2 linked regions of the Homo sapiens genome follow. The protein of the gene in region 1 binds, or shares a complex with, the protein of each later gene. Each region holds a gene or a part of one and is shown on either strand. Other genes may lie near its edges.

Region 1 (7,186 bases):
GAGCCTGTGTCCCTGGACTGTGAACTTCATGCTTGCTTCTCAGCTTCCCCAGCCCCTTAGATGGTACAGAACTGTTGGAGGGGGGTGGAGTTGTATATTTCCCTTGCTCTGGGTAGGTCACCCTCTGATAAAACACCAGGTTAGGCCTCTGGTGAAATAATTTCTCCTGAGGGCAGACCTTCTATTAATAATAGAATGTTCCAACCTATTTCAAAATGGTTCCTCTTCTCCTTCCACTGCCAGAAGCATAATGAGATTTTCCCCCTAATATTCGTGGTAAGGACCTAGCAGAGCTCCAGGAGGTAACACTCTCAAGTGTCTCATACTACCCTGCACCATGACTGGGCTCTGCTGGAGTTCTTAATTTGCAGAACTGCCCACACTGAGCCTCCCGCAATTTCTCAATTACAGGGCAAACTTTCCCAGCCGGCACTGGGTCCTTGGAGGTTTCTGTCTGCTGGTTTCTTCCTCTGGAGGTTGTGCTTCTGTGTTTGCCTGTCTCTCCAATTTGGGGGGCAGTGGTTTGCCCAATGACCTCAATTCTCTGAAAGAGCTAAGAAGAGGTGTTAATTTTTCGGTTTGCTCAGCTTTCTACTTGTTGCTAGAATGGAGCGCCAATAGTGCCTCCTATAGTGACATGTAACCCTCAACTCTAGAGATGATGAAGCATACTAATGACAAAGGAGAAATGCTTCAGCAGTTTTCTGTCAGCACATTACCCCTTGAAAAAGCTGCTTCTTCCACATTCTGCAAGAGATGGGTCTCAACTCAGAGCTCAAGGCAAATGACTTCCTTCAAGGAGAAGGAATAAACAGTCTCAGAAACCATGAAAGCCTGCCCCCAGGAGTGTCCCTGAACCTCAGCAGGGGCCACACTTACCTTGCAGAAATAGGTGAGGCATGCTCCTGGTACAAAATCCCAATGGTACAGAAGGACAAATTGAAAAACAAGTCTCCCTCTAAACCCCTGACCCCGAGCTACCTAGTTCTCCTCCCTAGAGGCAAAGCTGTTACCAGATTCTTGTATCTCCTTAACATATATCCTTAGAAGAGCTGTCAAGTGAACACATGTTTAAGTGAAAACCTATTTTAGAAGTGCATTTTCTTAAGGAACTTTAGGGTTGGAAGGAACCTGTGTCAGTCCTTAATTCACAACCTCCATTAGTACTTATTGTTCTTGCACAAAAATCTTTCTCAAAAAAGCCCTTTCCACTCTGACATAGCTTATTCTACTTTTACTTAGCTCCAATAACTTATAAAACATATTTTTGAAAGTCTAAAATCTGCCACTATGTTTTTTTTTCCTAATCAATCTTTACTTTGACCTCTAAGCCAGAGAAAACAGGTGGTCAAATGCCTTTTGCCTAAGATGGAACTTAGAATATTTGAAGACCTCAGATCTTCACCCTGCCAAATAACGTGTTTCTCCTCCCCTTTCACAGAGCATTTGGTTTTAGGAAATTCAGAGCCACATTCCTTATAGACAAGACTAAACTCTTATTCAACATACTCAGAAACTTCTTCTAAGAGGATAACCACTCATCAGAGGAAAAAAGTTTCTCATGTACAGCTGGCAAAGGGATGGAACCATCTGTGTTATTAAAATTGACAGACGCTTATGAGATTTATTAAGGGAAATACTAGAGTCTTAGTACATACTTGCTAATATAGCATACATGAAGGCTTTATCTATAATTTTTTTGGCCAAGCAGAAATTTTGGTATTACTCACCCTAACAAATTTCCAAGACATTATGAAATAGAATTTTAGGTCCTGACATCACCATTTGTCTCAGGTTTTGAAGCGTTGCTGGACAAGAGGGGTAAAACACGGCTCTGCCTTGGATTCAAAGTTGGCCTCTCATACTAGCAAGTATACCTTGGTATCCTGGTCACTTCTCCCGGCCACAGCATCACATTGCTATAAAAGGCAGATACAAGTATTAACCAGCTCACAGGTTATCAGATAAGCTTAGTCTGACCAATGCTTAACACAGCAACTGGGCCACTATTGTCATTCCTGTGGTGGTGGCACACACACCCAGCCTCTGTCCGGGCCATGGTCTAGGACCACCCTCCACAGAGGCTGTGAGCTAGAGCCCTAACTGTGCAGGGCCCTAACTATGCCAGGCTACTTATCTCTCTTAAGAGGACTTCATTAGTGCCTGCTCGGCCATACAGTTTTTTACTTACCAAGTAACACAGTTATCAGCACACTCCAGGTACTAGCCAAGGACTACAAAATCAACGTGAATGTCAGCTTTTGTATCAAAAGCTCAAAGGAGAAACTCAAACTTTACATAGATGTCCCATGAAGATGTTCAGCAAACCCATTCTTCTCTGTTCCCTGGAATCCATCCCAGTATTGTGCTATGTGTGTGTCTAGTAATTCTTTACAAAAAGCTCTGTTTCTTGTGATGCTATCAGATCACATTGAAGAATATACAAGCCGTACTATGAAGGCTGTTGTCTCATATAGTCCTAACGTAGTGAGAACTGATGTTCTTACATGCTGTCTTTTTGGGCACTCAAAGAAATTCCTGTACAGTCTTACAAATCAGTTGTAGCTTAAATTGATTTGTGTTGTGACTTGTACACACAGGTCACATTCCCTTGACAGAAAATATAGTTTAAAACCAAATTTGCAGCCCTTGTTAAGTGAATGCACAGGACTTTATTGTATTCAGGTCTTTTATTGTAAGACTCACTCCTGTCTTCATTTTATGTTCCACTGTTGTGCTTCCCATTTGCCTTTCTCTAGTTTTGTTTTCTGTGTTTCTACGGACTGCTCTCAGCCCAGGTGTGCAGGAAGCACACACATGCCTGCAGAGCCTTCATGGCCTCTGCATTCAGGGCATGACTTCAACGCACAGTGGCTGTACTGATTTGTTAAAACAAAGGAACAGATTACTTCTCCTAATTCACAGGGAAGTTCCAGGTTGTGCGGGCAGTGAGCAGACCTGTGTCTGTCTGCGCTTGCCCTGGTGAAAAACCCCACCGTTCAGGCTGCAGGGTGCGAGACCCAGGCACAAACATTTTGCTGGATGAGGAGGAAAGATGTAAGGTTGCTCCCCTTCAGAGACAGCAAAGGGCAGGTCTGTAGCTTCACTTACTTCAGGATTGTGATTTTTGACAGAGCCGAGAGATCAGGGTTGTTGAACCAGGCCTGAAGGTCCTAGTGAATCTCGTGAAGAGAGGAGGGGTCTGGCTGTAACATGGACCTAGAGGACATTTTTACTGCAGGAGAAGGAACAGTGGGGATGGGGTGGACTTGCCAAAGGAATATAGCTCAAGTTCCTGCAGCCCAAAAAAGCTCAGTTTCTTTTGGCCAAAGCTTCCGCGAGTTTCCCTGGCATTTCTCCTGCGGGAGCTACAGGGGCAGTGGGACACTTAGCCTCTCTAAAAGCACCTCCACGGCTGTTTGTGTCAAGCCTTTATTCCAAGAGCTTCACTTTTGCGAAGTAATGTGCTTCACACATTGGCTTCAAAGTACCCATGGCTGGTTGCAATAAACATTAAGGAGGCCTGTCTCTGCACCCGGAGTTGGGTGCCCTCATTTCAGATGATTTCGAGGGTGCTTGACAAGATCTGAAGGACCCTCGGACTTTAGAGCACCACCTCGGACGCCTGGCACCCCTGCCGCGCGGGCACGGCGACCTCCTCAGCTGCCAGGCCAGCCTCTGATCCCCGAGAGGGTCCCGTAGTGCTGCAGGGGAGGTGGGGACCCGAATAAAGGAGCAGTTTCCCCGTCGGTGCCATTATCCGACGCTGGCTCTAAGGCTCGGCCAGTCTGTCTAAAGCTGGTACAAGTTTGCTTTGTAAAACAAAAGAAGGGAAAGGGGGAAGGGGACCCTGGCACAGATTTGGCTCGACCTGGACATAGGCTGGGCCTGCAAGTCCGCGGGGACCGGGTCCAGAGGGGCAGTGCTGGGAACGCCCCTCTCGGAAATTAACTCCTCAGGGCACCCGCTCCCCTCCCATGCGCCGCCCCACTCCCGCCGGAGACTAGGTCCCGCGGGGGCCACCGCTGTCCACCGCCTCCGGCGGCCGCTGGCCTTGGGTCCCCGCTGCTGGTTCTCCTCCCTCCTCCTCGCATTCTCCTCCTCCTCTGCTCCTCCCGATCCCTCCTCCGCCGCCTGGTCCCTCCTCCTCCCGCCCTGCCTCCCCGCGCCTCGGCCCGCGCGAGCTAGACGTCCGGGCAGCCCCCGGCGCAGCGCGGCCGCAGCAGCCTCCGCCCCCCGCACGGTGTGAGCGCCCGACGCGGCCGAGGCGGCCGGAGTCCCGAGCTAGCCCCGGCGGCCGCCGCCGCCCAGACCGGACGACAGGCCACCTCGTCGGCGTCCGCCCGAGTCCCCGCCTCGCCGCCAACGCCACAACCACCGCGCACGGCCCCCTGACTCCGTCCAGTATTGATCGGGAGAGCCGGAGCGAGCTCTTCGGGGAGCAGCGATGCGACCCTCCGGGACGGCCGGGGCAGCGCTCCTGGCGCTGCTGGCTGCGCTCTGCCCGGCGAGTCGGGCTCTGGAGGAAAAGAAAGGTAAGGGCGTGTCTCGCCGGCTCCCGCGCCGCCCCCGGATCGCGCCCCGGACCCCGCAGCCCGCCCAACCGCGCACCGGCGCACCGGCTCGGCGCCCGCGCCCCCGCCCGTCCTTTCCTGTTTCCTTGAGATCAGCTGCGCCGCCGACCGGGACCGCGGGAGGAACGGGACGTTTCGTTCTTCGGCCGGGAGAGTCTGGGGCGGGCGGAGGAGGAGACGCGTGGGACACCGGGCTGCAGGCCAGGCGGGGAACGGCCGCCGGGACCTCCGGCGCCCCGAACCGCTCCCAACTTTCTTCCCTCACTTTCCCCGCCCAGCTGCGCAGGATCGGCGTCAGTGGGCGAAAGCCGGGTGCTGGTGGGCGCCTGGGGCCGGGGTCCCGCACGTGCGCCCCGCGCTGTCTTCCCAGGGCGCGACGGGGTCCTGGCGCGCACCCGAGGGGCGGGCGCTGCCCACCCGCCGAGACTGCACTGTTTAGGGAAGCTGAGGAAGGAACCCAAAAATACAGCCTCCCCTCGGACCCCGCGGGACAGGCGGCTTTCTGAGAGGACCTCCCCGCCTCCGCCCTCCGCGCAGGTCTCAAACTGAAGCCGGCGCCCGCCAGCCTGGCCCCGGCCCCTCTCCAGGTCCCCGCGATCCTCGTTCCCCAGTGTGGAGTCGCAGCCTCGACCTGGGAGCTGGGAGAACTCGTCTACCACCACCTGCGGCTCCCGGGGAGGGGTGGTGCTGGCGGCGGTTAGTTTCCTCGTTGGCAAAAGGCAGGTGGGGTCCGACCCGCCCCTTGGGCGCAGACCCCGGCCGCTCGCCTCGCCCGGTGCGCCCTCGTCTTGCCTATCCAAGAGTGCCCCCCACCTCCCGGGGACCCCAGCTCCCTCCTGGGCGCCCGCGCCGAAAGCCCCAGGCTCTCCTTCGATGGCCGCCTCGCGGAGACGTCCGGGTCTGCTCCACCTGCAGCCCTTCGGTCGCGCCTGGGCTTCGCGGTGGAGCGGGACGCGGCTGTCCGGCCACTGCAGGGGGGGATCGCGGGACTCTTGAGCGGAAGCCCCGGAAGCAGAGCTCATCCTGGCCAACACCATGGTGTTTCAAAATGGGGCTCACAGCAAACTTCTCCTCAAAACCCGGAGACTTTCTTTCTTGGATGTCTCTTTTTGCTGTTTGAAGAATTTGAGCCAACCAAAATATTAAACCTGTCTTACACACACACACACACACACACACACACACACACCGGATTGCTGTCCCTGGTTCAAGTGTGCCAAGTGTGCAGACAGAACATGAGCGAGTCTGGCTTCGTGACTACCGACCATAAACCCACTTGACAGGGGAAACATGCCTTGGAAGGTTTAATTGCACAATTCCAACCTTGAGCTGCGCGGGTTCCAAGAGCCAGGCCCGTACTTGCTGTTGATGTCATTGGCTTGGGGAGTTGGGGTTTGGTGCCCAGCGCGGTCGTTGGGGGAGGGGCAAGGCATAGAACAGTGGTTCCCAGACCTTGCTGCACATTGGAATTACCTGGGATTAAAAAAAAAAAAATCAAAACAAAAACCAGTGTCTGGCTCCCGCCCCCAGACATTCTGATTTAATTGGCATGGGGCAAGACCTGGACTTGGGATTTTTTTTAATGCTCTTCATGTGATCTGTTGGGCAGCCAGATTTGGGGATCACTAGACGGAAGAAGGATTGTTAAAGTCTCCGGAGATGTTACTTGCCAATGCTAAGAGCTCTTTGAGGACATCTGGAATTGTTACAATATTGCCAAATATAGGAAAGAGGGAAAAGGTAGAGTGTGATTCCAATAATAAAGGATTCCGCTTTTCATTGAAGGAACTGGTGGAAAGGTTTCTTCTCTGCTGAGCCTGCAGGCCCGTCCTGCCTGCCTGGGGTGCCCGGGAGACGCGGGCCTGCTCCGGAGACTGCTGACTGCCGGTCCTGTTAGTCAGGTGTCAGCCCTGTCTCTGCCGAAGAGACTCTTCTCTTTATTTTAAATTAAACCCTCAGAGCACCACCAAAGCATCACTTTTCTCCCTCCATTGGTGTTCTCATTCTTTGATGTTACTTGTTTGAACACCACTATTAGTAGTTGGAGATTTGTTCCTGAGAAAAATATAAATACCACTTAATTTGCCTGTTTGTCCCGCATTCACTCAAAACAGAATGCTCCTGAAGACAAGAGAGAGAGTAGGAGAACAGACGCTATTCCATTACAGTAACATAAAAGACTGGATTTTCAGGGGCAAATTATTAAAATAGGAGATGAGCTCTTTTAACAGAAATTTGTTTAAGGCCTGTGTCTATCAAATTCAGTGGATTTTATTCAAGATGCACTTTGTTTAGTGGGAGTTTTGTTTGGTTCTGGGACATGCTAACTTCTAGACTTGCTGCTCTTAGAGGTAATGACTGCCAGACACCATTTCATGAGTCCTAATCCCCACATTAAGCATAAGAGGTGCACACTCTCCTCCTATGGGGGAAACTGAGGTACGAAGAACTAAAGTGACTTTCCCACAGCTGGTGGGAGGCAGACGGGAAATTCACACCAGGGGCTTCCAACTCCAGATCCCTCTCTCAACTTCCAAACTCCACTGCCTTGTCCGAGTTCTGGTTTCAGGAGATCCAAATCAGGTGTGTGCAAATGTCTAATGTCAGAGCTG
Region 2 (7,134 bases), on another chromosome or scaffold:
GAGAGGGAGGGGAATAGAAAGAAACCTAATTGTGTTGCTATCACTTGGTTTATCCGGCTAGCAGTCACATGAGTAACAATCTTGCATAAGTTTACCTGAATACTGTTAGACCATAAAGCATTCTTCCTGCTGGGTCAGGTGGCTGCAGAGGTGATCTGTCTCAATGCCAAGGGCAAGAAATAAGGCAAGTAGAATTTAAATGAGGGAAAAATAGATGATGGCACCATATCTATTTAGAGAGGAGAAAGAAATACTATCCTCTGAAATGCACACAGTGACTGACAAAGGGTGACCCAGGCAGTTATCAGCTAACATGAGACCAGGAGCGTAAAGTACGGGATTTAAACCAGTGACTTGCAAGAAATGAGGTAGCAGAGAGGCAGGGAATCCCAAAGTGCCATCCACACATTCCACACTCCATGGATCTGTGCCGTGTCACTGCACTGTTCAAATACGGCATCTCATCGTATGACTTGATCAGAGATTTAGCCAAGACGTGGAGCCCAGGAGGACATTTATTGAGCATACTCTGCTAAGCACCATGCTTTGGTACATGCTAGGTTATCTCATGTGATTCCCCACAAAAAAATCCTAAAAGCAGTGGGCGAGGGTATTATTTCCCAGAGATACTCTAAAGTAACTCAGCTATTAAGTTGGTAGCATGGATATGAAATGAGGCTTGTTTGTTTCTAAAACCTGTGGTTCCTTCCACTCTGTGACACAGTCTCCCCAACTTATTGTTTCTATCCTGGGTTTCATGTTTATTGGGTACAACCTACCTCAATGAAGGCACTTCTGAGCCACCAGAGGTGGCAAGGAAAACAAGGCATAGACTTGCTTGCCAGCAGGAATCAGACTATTCTGAGATCCTAGAGCCATCCATAAAAGCTCATTTTTGTAATTTCTTGGGTTCTGCTTCAGCAACCTGGGTTCTTCTTTCCTAGCTTCTGGCTGCCTGATAGATCGGCCCAACCATCACCCCTCACATCCCATGCAAATGACAGTGCCCAACTCTAGATATTTGCCAACTACTCCACGGAAAATTCTCCCACCCCAAAGAGAGTCCAGTCCATTTGACATAACTGTATACAGAAGTTTTACTTCTGTCTCCAACAGCTGAGTCTGAGGTTCATGGGGCCATTTTTGTCATTTGTCACCCTCTTTTTGTTGCTGTTCTCTAGGACTATGTCATTAGCAGATCAGAGAAAGACGCCTCATTCATACACAAGAATTTGCTGAGTACACACTGTGGAAGCAGGAATGTCCTAGGTGCTGGGAACATAGAGATCACTAGGATTAAGTCTTTATTTCAAATACCCTAGAGTTCTGCTCACCTGTTACAAGGAGTGCTACCTGAGAACAGAGTCCAGAGATTCTGAGCAAAAGCACCTGATTTCCTCATCGGGAACTTCCTTAATGGGAGAGCCAGGACAGCAGCCTAGCTTTGGCAGTTTGGCTCCATTCTGCTCTCTTTATTCAAACTATTGCCTATTGTGTACTGTCTTCCATAGGTGTCTCTTCTGGAAACTGTACTGTGTTTTCCCCCTCAATCTACCTCTTTTTAAAAGCCAGACGCCATCTCAAAAGGGCAAGCTGATAAAAATGGAATGTCGGGGCAGCTATAACCTCTCATCAACAAAGGCGGCTGCCGTGTCTAAGCAGCAGGTTGGAGGCTCACCCAAGGATTAAATAAATGAATTAACAGTTAGAGAGAGAATGTTTTTCAGGCAATATCCTTTGGCAGGATTGTAATTCGCATTCAGTCAAGCTCCCATTTCCCCTTGGCAAAAAATTCATTTAATATGAGAGGACAGTGTGGCTTATTTACCCATTATCATATTTGGCAGTTCTTAAAGTTGCAATGCACCTGTTACTAAAACTCCGGAGTTGTGTCAGAGCCTCAGAAACAGTAAGAGTGGGGAGAAAGTGAAGGAGGTTGAAATTGAAATTTAGGTTAATTTTCACAACTACCTTTGTTCACAGTTCCCTTTCCATTTTTCACTAATTTTTAGAACTTCTGAATTCTTACAAGTTATCAGAAGGAAGGATTTTTTTCTTTGTGGCTTAAGAGTTTCAAACAGACAAACAAAAAATCAACCATCTGTTTCCCTAATTTCCAAGCAATTAGCCAGGTGTTAATTACTCCTCTTGTCAGAGTAAAAGCTGAAGCTTCCATGAAATGTTCTGCTAGTTTAAAATGAGGCATATTCATTCACTTATACACAGAAGTACAGTTTGAGAGTTATGAAGTTTTATAGTTGGTAGCAGATTAGCTCTAATGGCCAGTAAGAAAATAAACATGCATCAGAAAACAAAAATTAAGCAACTATACATACCCAAAGACAAACTTTGTTAAATGCCCAAGTATACCAGATTGAACCAACAGGGATGTGGGGGCAGTTTCCCGGAGACCTGGAGCACCTTTTCATTGGAGTACTTACCCACACAAGTAGAATTCCCATTTCCTGCGAGAGTACCTTCAGGACAGCTCCAGTGCTGCGGTGCTGAGAGACTAACAAAACTAAATTTTGAAACTACTGGCAACAGAATGATAAGAGTGAGCAGCATAATCTTGATGAGTTTGAACTTTCAAAAGAAAACAGCTTGATTTTGCTGGAGCATGGCCCGGGCAAGGTGAGTATGATTGACCCCAGATGCGGCTGCCTGAGCGGAGGCCTCAGCCCTGGGGCATCTTTTACTCTCCTGTTGTGCTGTTGTCCTCCAAGCTCTTTCTTCAACTGAGAGACCTTCTGAATGCAGCCTGCCAAGGGAAGCCACAGGAAAGATTTCTTTATCTATGTTTCTTTGGAAGCCAGTAAGAAATACCTGACACCCTTATGACAAATTTCACAGAGTTTAACAGCCCTGCTCTGGCTGACTTCACTGTGACAGAGCAAGGCAAAGGCTTAGAGAGGAAAAAGAAAGGAAGAACTGATGGAAAGTTCCAGCTACAACCCTTGGATTGGGGCTGAAAGAAGAAATATGGAGATACGATTCCTCTCCCAACAGTTTCTCTTTTTGAAAAGTGGAATGACTCAGCTTTGCTTTTTAAAGCTCTTCAGGCTCCACCTCCTTTCCTTTAGTGACACTTGAGTGAGCCTCTGTTTGCAAATGCGAATGTGGGCAATTCCTCCACACAGGAAAGCAGGGATGACTGCCAAAGAGGAGATAACTCGCTACTCACCATAAATATCCTGGGCAGAACTGGGAGAGAGGAGTTGGGGGCTGTGGAGGTGCTCATGGTGAATGGCGGGAACTGCTAAATATTGGCTATGTTTTAATGTCTGGAAGGATGGAGACAAAATTAAACCATGCAGTATAAATCAATAATAAGCAGCACTGTTGATAGTTTGGATTGATAATAATTGATCATTCACATGAGCAATAGTAAAGATAGTTCACCTTCAGCCCATTATTTGAACGAAATGTCAATACCAGTGCACATTCCAGGAGCTTTATCTTATTTTTCTCTTTCTCCTGTATAGTTTATAGCGGAATTTGAAAGATTATTCTTTCCAAATCAAAGGGAAATCCCTGAGGCCAAATGAAGAGATACAGTATGGACAGACACCTTTTCTTTCAGCATGAGCATGATAAAACATCACGAGGGGCCAGGAGTGCAGAGAAAGGAGTGGATTGTTATTATAGGGACATTGGAAAAAATAAGCTAACAGTGCAAAGCTGGGAAGCACTGGAAATCCAGCACAGAGGAATGCTTTTCCTTCTAAGATAATTTAGGCTTTTTTTTTTTCACATCTCTGTGATAGAAAATAAGAACTGGACGTATCTGTTAGCTGTCTCCTCAACCACTTTCTACTTGGAGCAACAGTGGTTATTTCTTCAGGAGTACAACTAGGGCCCAAAAATACCCAGAAGGCAAACAACTTATAGCAGATTTGATGCACGATGGAAATTTCTGTCAGTTTACTCCATCCTGGAAAATGGACTTTCATTTAAGTTACCCTGAGGTAGTGTTCCAAGTGCTGGTCAAAAATGTACGTAAAAGCAATAGTCACAAAAACAACTGTCACACTAGTGAACACCCCATTACAGAGGAGAACAGACTAACTCTAAGCCTTTTACTCATACTTAATTATGTCCTGATTATTCTCCAAAGACTGGATCACTTTCCTGAAACAGCTTAAGTCAGGATTTCTCCTATTTCAGCCAGCCTCTGCCAGGCAGCTCTGAACCCTTACAGGAGAAACAGACCCTGGGGAAGGGGGAAAGAGAAGTCCTTTAGGTGGTTATGCGGAATATTCCATTGCTTTCTGGACTGAGTCAGACTCAAGACTCATAATGAGCATCCTACAAATAACCTGCACTGACTCTTCGAGTTACTAACTTTATTAATAAGCTTCCCTTTCAGCACAATACATTGCCAGCATCCCAGATGACAGCAATGGAAGGGGCTTAGAGGACAATCAAGCATCACGCTGTGTCAGTGGAGTGGAGTGGAGAGAATGATATGAAGACAAACATGAAATGATCCACAGCTCTGTTCTGTTTGGATTTGGAATCTCTCATATTATTTTTGGTTGGAAAAAGGTTTGCTTTCTTAATTACATGTCACCTGGGCTAATGTTGTCATTAATGTTGAGTACAAGCTCCCTAGGAGATGACGGAGTCAACAGAGGTATAGCAGATGCTATGGCTGATGACTGATGATGAAAATCAATCGCAGCTAATTCATCATCTACAGTTGCCCAGATAGCAAAATCATAGGACAGAGCTACCCAACTGGGAAGGATTTACAGAGATATTTAATAAGTTTATATTCCAGCCGGGCGTGGTGGCTCATGCCTGTAATCCCAGCACTTTGGGAGGCCAAGGTGGGCAGATCACACTTCAGGAGATCTAGACCATCCTGGCTAACACGGTGAAACCCCATCTCTACTAAAAATACAAAAAGTTAGCCAGGCGTGGTGGCACATGCCTATAGTCCCAGCTACTCATGAGGCTGAGGCAGGAGAATTGCTTGAACCCAGGAGGCGGAGGTTGCAGTGAGCCGATAACACGCCACTGCACTCCAGCCTGGGTGACAGAGCAAGACTCTATCTCAAAAAAATAAATAAATAAATAAATAATAAGTTTATGTTCCTACTTCTGGATAAAACTGAACCTTTCTTGCACTCAAGAAAGGTTGAAATAAACTCTTTATTTTAAAATTGATAAGAAATGCACTATAACTTATAGGTTTGAGCTGCCAAATATGATTTAATTTCTGGAATTGAGTTAAAGTTAACTAATTCATTCGTTAATTAAACAGCTATATATGATAGAGCACTGCCTGGAGTACAAGAAACAGAAGTCGTAGTCCTTAACATCAAGAGCTTGCTGAGGTTGATTAACAGCAACAACAGAGAGTATGAGTATGAGCTAATGAATGACCAGCCACCAAGTACATGACTGGTCACAAACTGGGTGTCAGGAAAGAAGGAGGGGAGCTGCAATGTACTTTGGACTACAGCATGCAGTGTGAAGCTCTGTGGAGTAATTAGGATGCCTCAGAAGGACATAGAGAAGGAGAAGGGTCATGCTGACAGGATGTGGAACAGGAATGGACAAAAATTTTTTTTCTTATTTAATAGTTCCTTAGATCCTGAAGGGACACAGCTGGGTGGGGGAAACCCTGCTGGTAGGTCAGTAAGAAAGTTAGACATTAATAGCAAGGAGATAGCTCTGAATGGTTATAAGTGTGAGTGGACAGCAATAGCTGGAAGGGACTATTGGGACATATGTTTATGTGTGCTTGTCATAAAATTCTAACTTTTCCGATGAAATTTCCTCATTGAAACACAGGGCACCTAGTTCTCCTGGGTTATGTATTTACTGTGCTCAGCACCTCTTACTAATCATTGCCACCGCCACACCATCAACAGATTACTTCCTTAATTACAGCATGTCTCCTCATCATTCTCCCAGGTATTTTAGTTTCTAAAAATGTAAAGGTTTAGGGAAAGAATTCTGGATTTCCCAAAACAATCTTTCCCTACCCTTCAGTTCTGCTCAACCTATGAGAAGTAGAGTACCATTAAATGAAGAGCACTTCAAGTGCTCTACAAGGCTTGACAAGAGAACTAAAGATACTGTAAAATGCATATAATGAAACACTACTTGCTGGAAGTAATGAAAATGCAAACCACTATTTGCAGCTCTTATTATATGTATAAAACTGTGAATCAGGCAGGGCACGGTGGCTCACGCCTGTAATCCCAACACTTTGGGAGGCTGAGGTGGGTGGATCACAAGGTCAGAAGTTCAAGACCAGCCTGGCCAATATGGTGAAACTCCATCTCTACTAAAAATACAAAACAAAACAAAAAACTGTGAATTAGTATCCTCTTTGCTTGCCACTCAAAACTGGAAAGATGTATAAAATAGATGGTGGAGAGAAAATATTTGAGTTGGTGACATATGGATTATTTCAATTTTAAATACCAGAGAAACAAAATAAATTAAGTTGCTTTCCTTTGGTTTTCCCAGCCTGATTTCTAATTAAGATGCATTCTTTTTCATTTTCATTAAAGTAAAATTTATATAAAGTGAACAGATCTTAAGTGTACAATCTGATGAGTTGTGATAAATGTATATATACACTTCATCAATACCTCAAACTGTCTTTTAAAAAACACCATTTTTGGTAGAAATTTCCAAGCATAGAACATTTCCTTTACCGTCAAAATTTTCCATATACTCCTTCCAGTGAATCCCGCTCATAGGTAACCATTGTTCTTCTTTCTCTCATCATAGATAAGTTTTGTCTGTTCTTGAACTTTATATAAAGGCAATCATACAGCACGTTTAACTTTGGGTCTTGCTTCTTTTGTTTAACATAATGTTTTTGAGACTCTTGTAGGTTGTGCATATCAGTACTTTATTCTTTTTTATTGCTGGGAAGTATTTTTGTATGAATATAGTACAATTTGTTTATCTATTCTCTTGTTCATGAACCTTTGGATTGTTTCCAGGTTTGGCTCAATGAATGTTTTCATTTCTCAACATTTAATACCTAATTACTAGTTCATAGGGTAGATATATGTTTAACTTCATAAGTAACTGCCAAATATTTTTCCAAAGTGGCTGTTCCATTTTATACTCTCTCCAGCAATATATGTGAGATCCATTTTTCCA

Evidence for each region. The genes of interacting proteins can lie anywhere in the genome.
Region 2: the proteins of EGFR (region 1) and EGF are in contact, whole or in part, in a crystal structure (PDB 3NJP), measured with the Homo sapiens proteins. Residues at the interface, in NP_005219.2 of Homo sapiens: Ser35, Asn36, Lys37, Leu38, Thr39, Gln40, Leu41, Gly42, Asp46, Arg53, Tyr69, Ala92, Leu93, Glu114, Leu122, Ser123, Tyr125, Asn152, Leu349, His370, Leu372, Pro373, Val374, Arg377, Asp379, Ser380, Phe381, Thr382, Leu406, Gln408; in NP_001954.2 of Homo sapiens: Ser979, His980, Asp981, Gly982, Tyr983, Leu985, His986, Met991, Ile993, Ala995, Leu996, Lys998, Ala1000, Cys1001, Asn1002, Cys1003, Val1005, Tyr1007, Ile1008, Gly1009, Glu1010, Arg1011, Gln1013, Tyr1014, Arg1015, Asp1016, Leu1017, Lys1018, Trp1019, Trp1020.

The regions. Positions count from the first base shown.
Region 1 is NC_000007.14:55,014,831-55,022,016, forward strand, and holds the start of EGFR (epidermal growth factor receptor isoform a precursor), read left to right. Parts: upstream 1-4,186; 5' UTR 4,187-4,447; coding exon 4,448-4,535; intron 4,536-7,186. UniProt on the Homo sapiens protein: Receptor tyrosine kinase binding ligands of the EGF family and activating several signaling cascades to convert extracellular cues into appropriate cellular responses.
Region 2 is NC_000004.12:109,908,770-109,915,903, reverse strand, and holds the start of EGF (pro-epidermal growth factor isoform 1 preproprotein), read right to left. Parts: upstream 3,022-7,134; 5' UTR 2,569-3,021; coding exon 2,442-2,568; intron 1-2,441.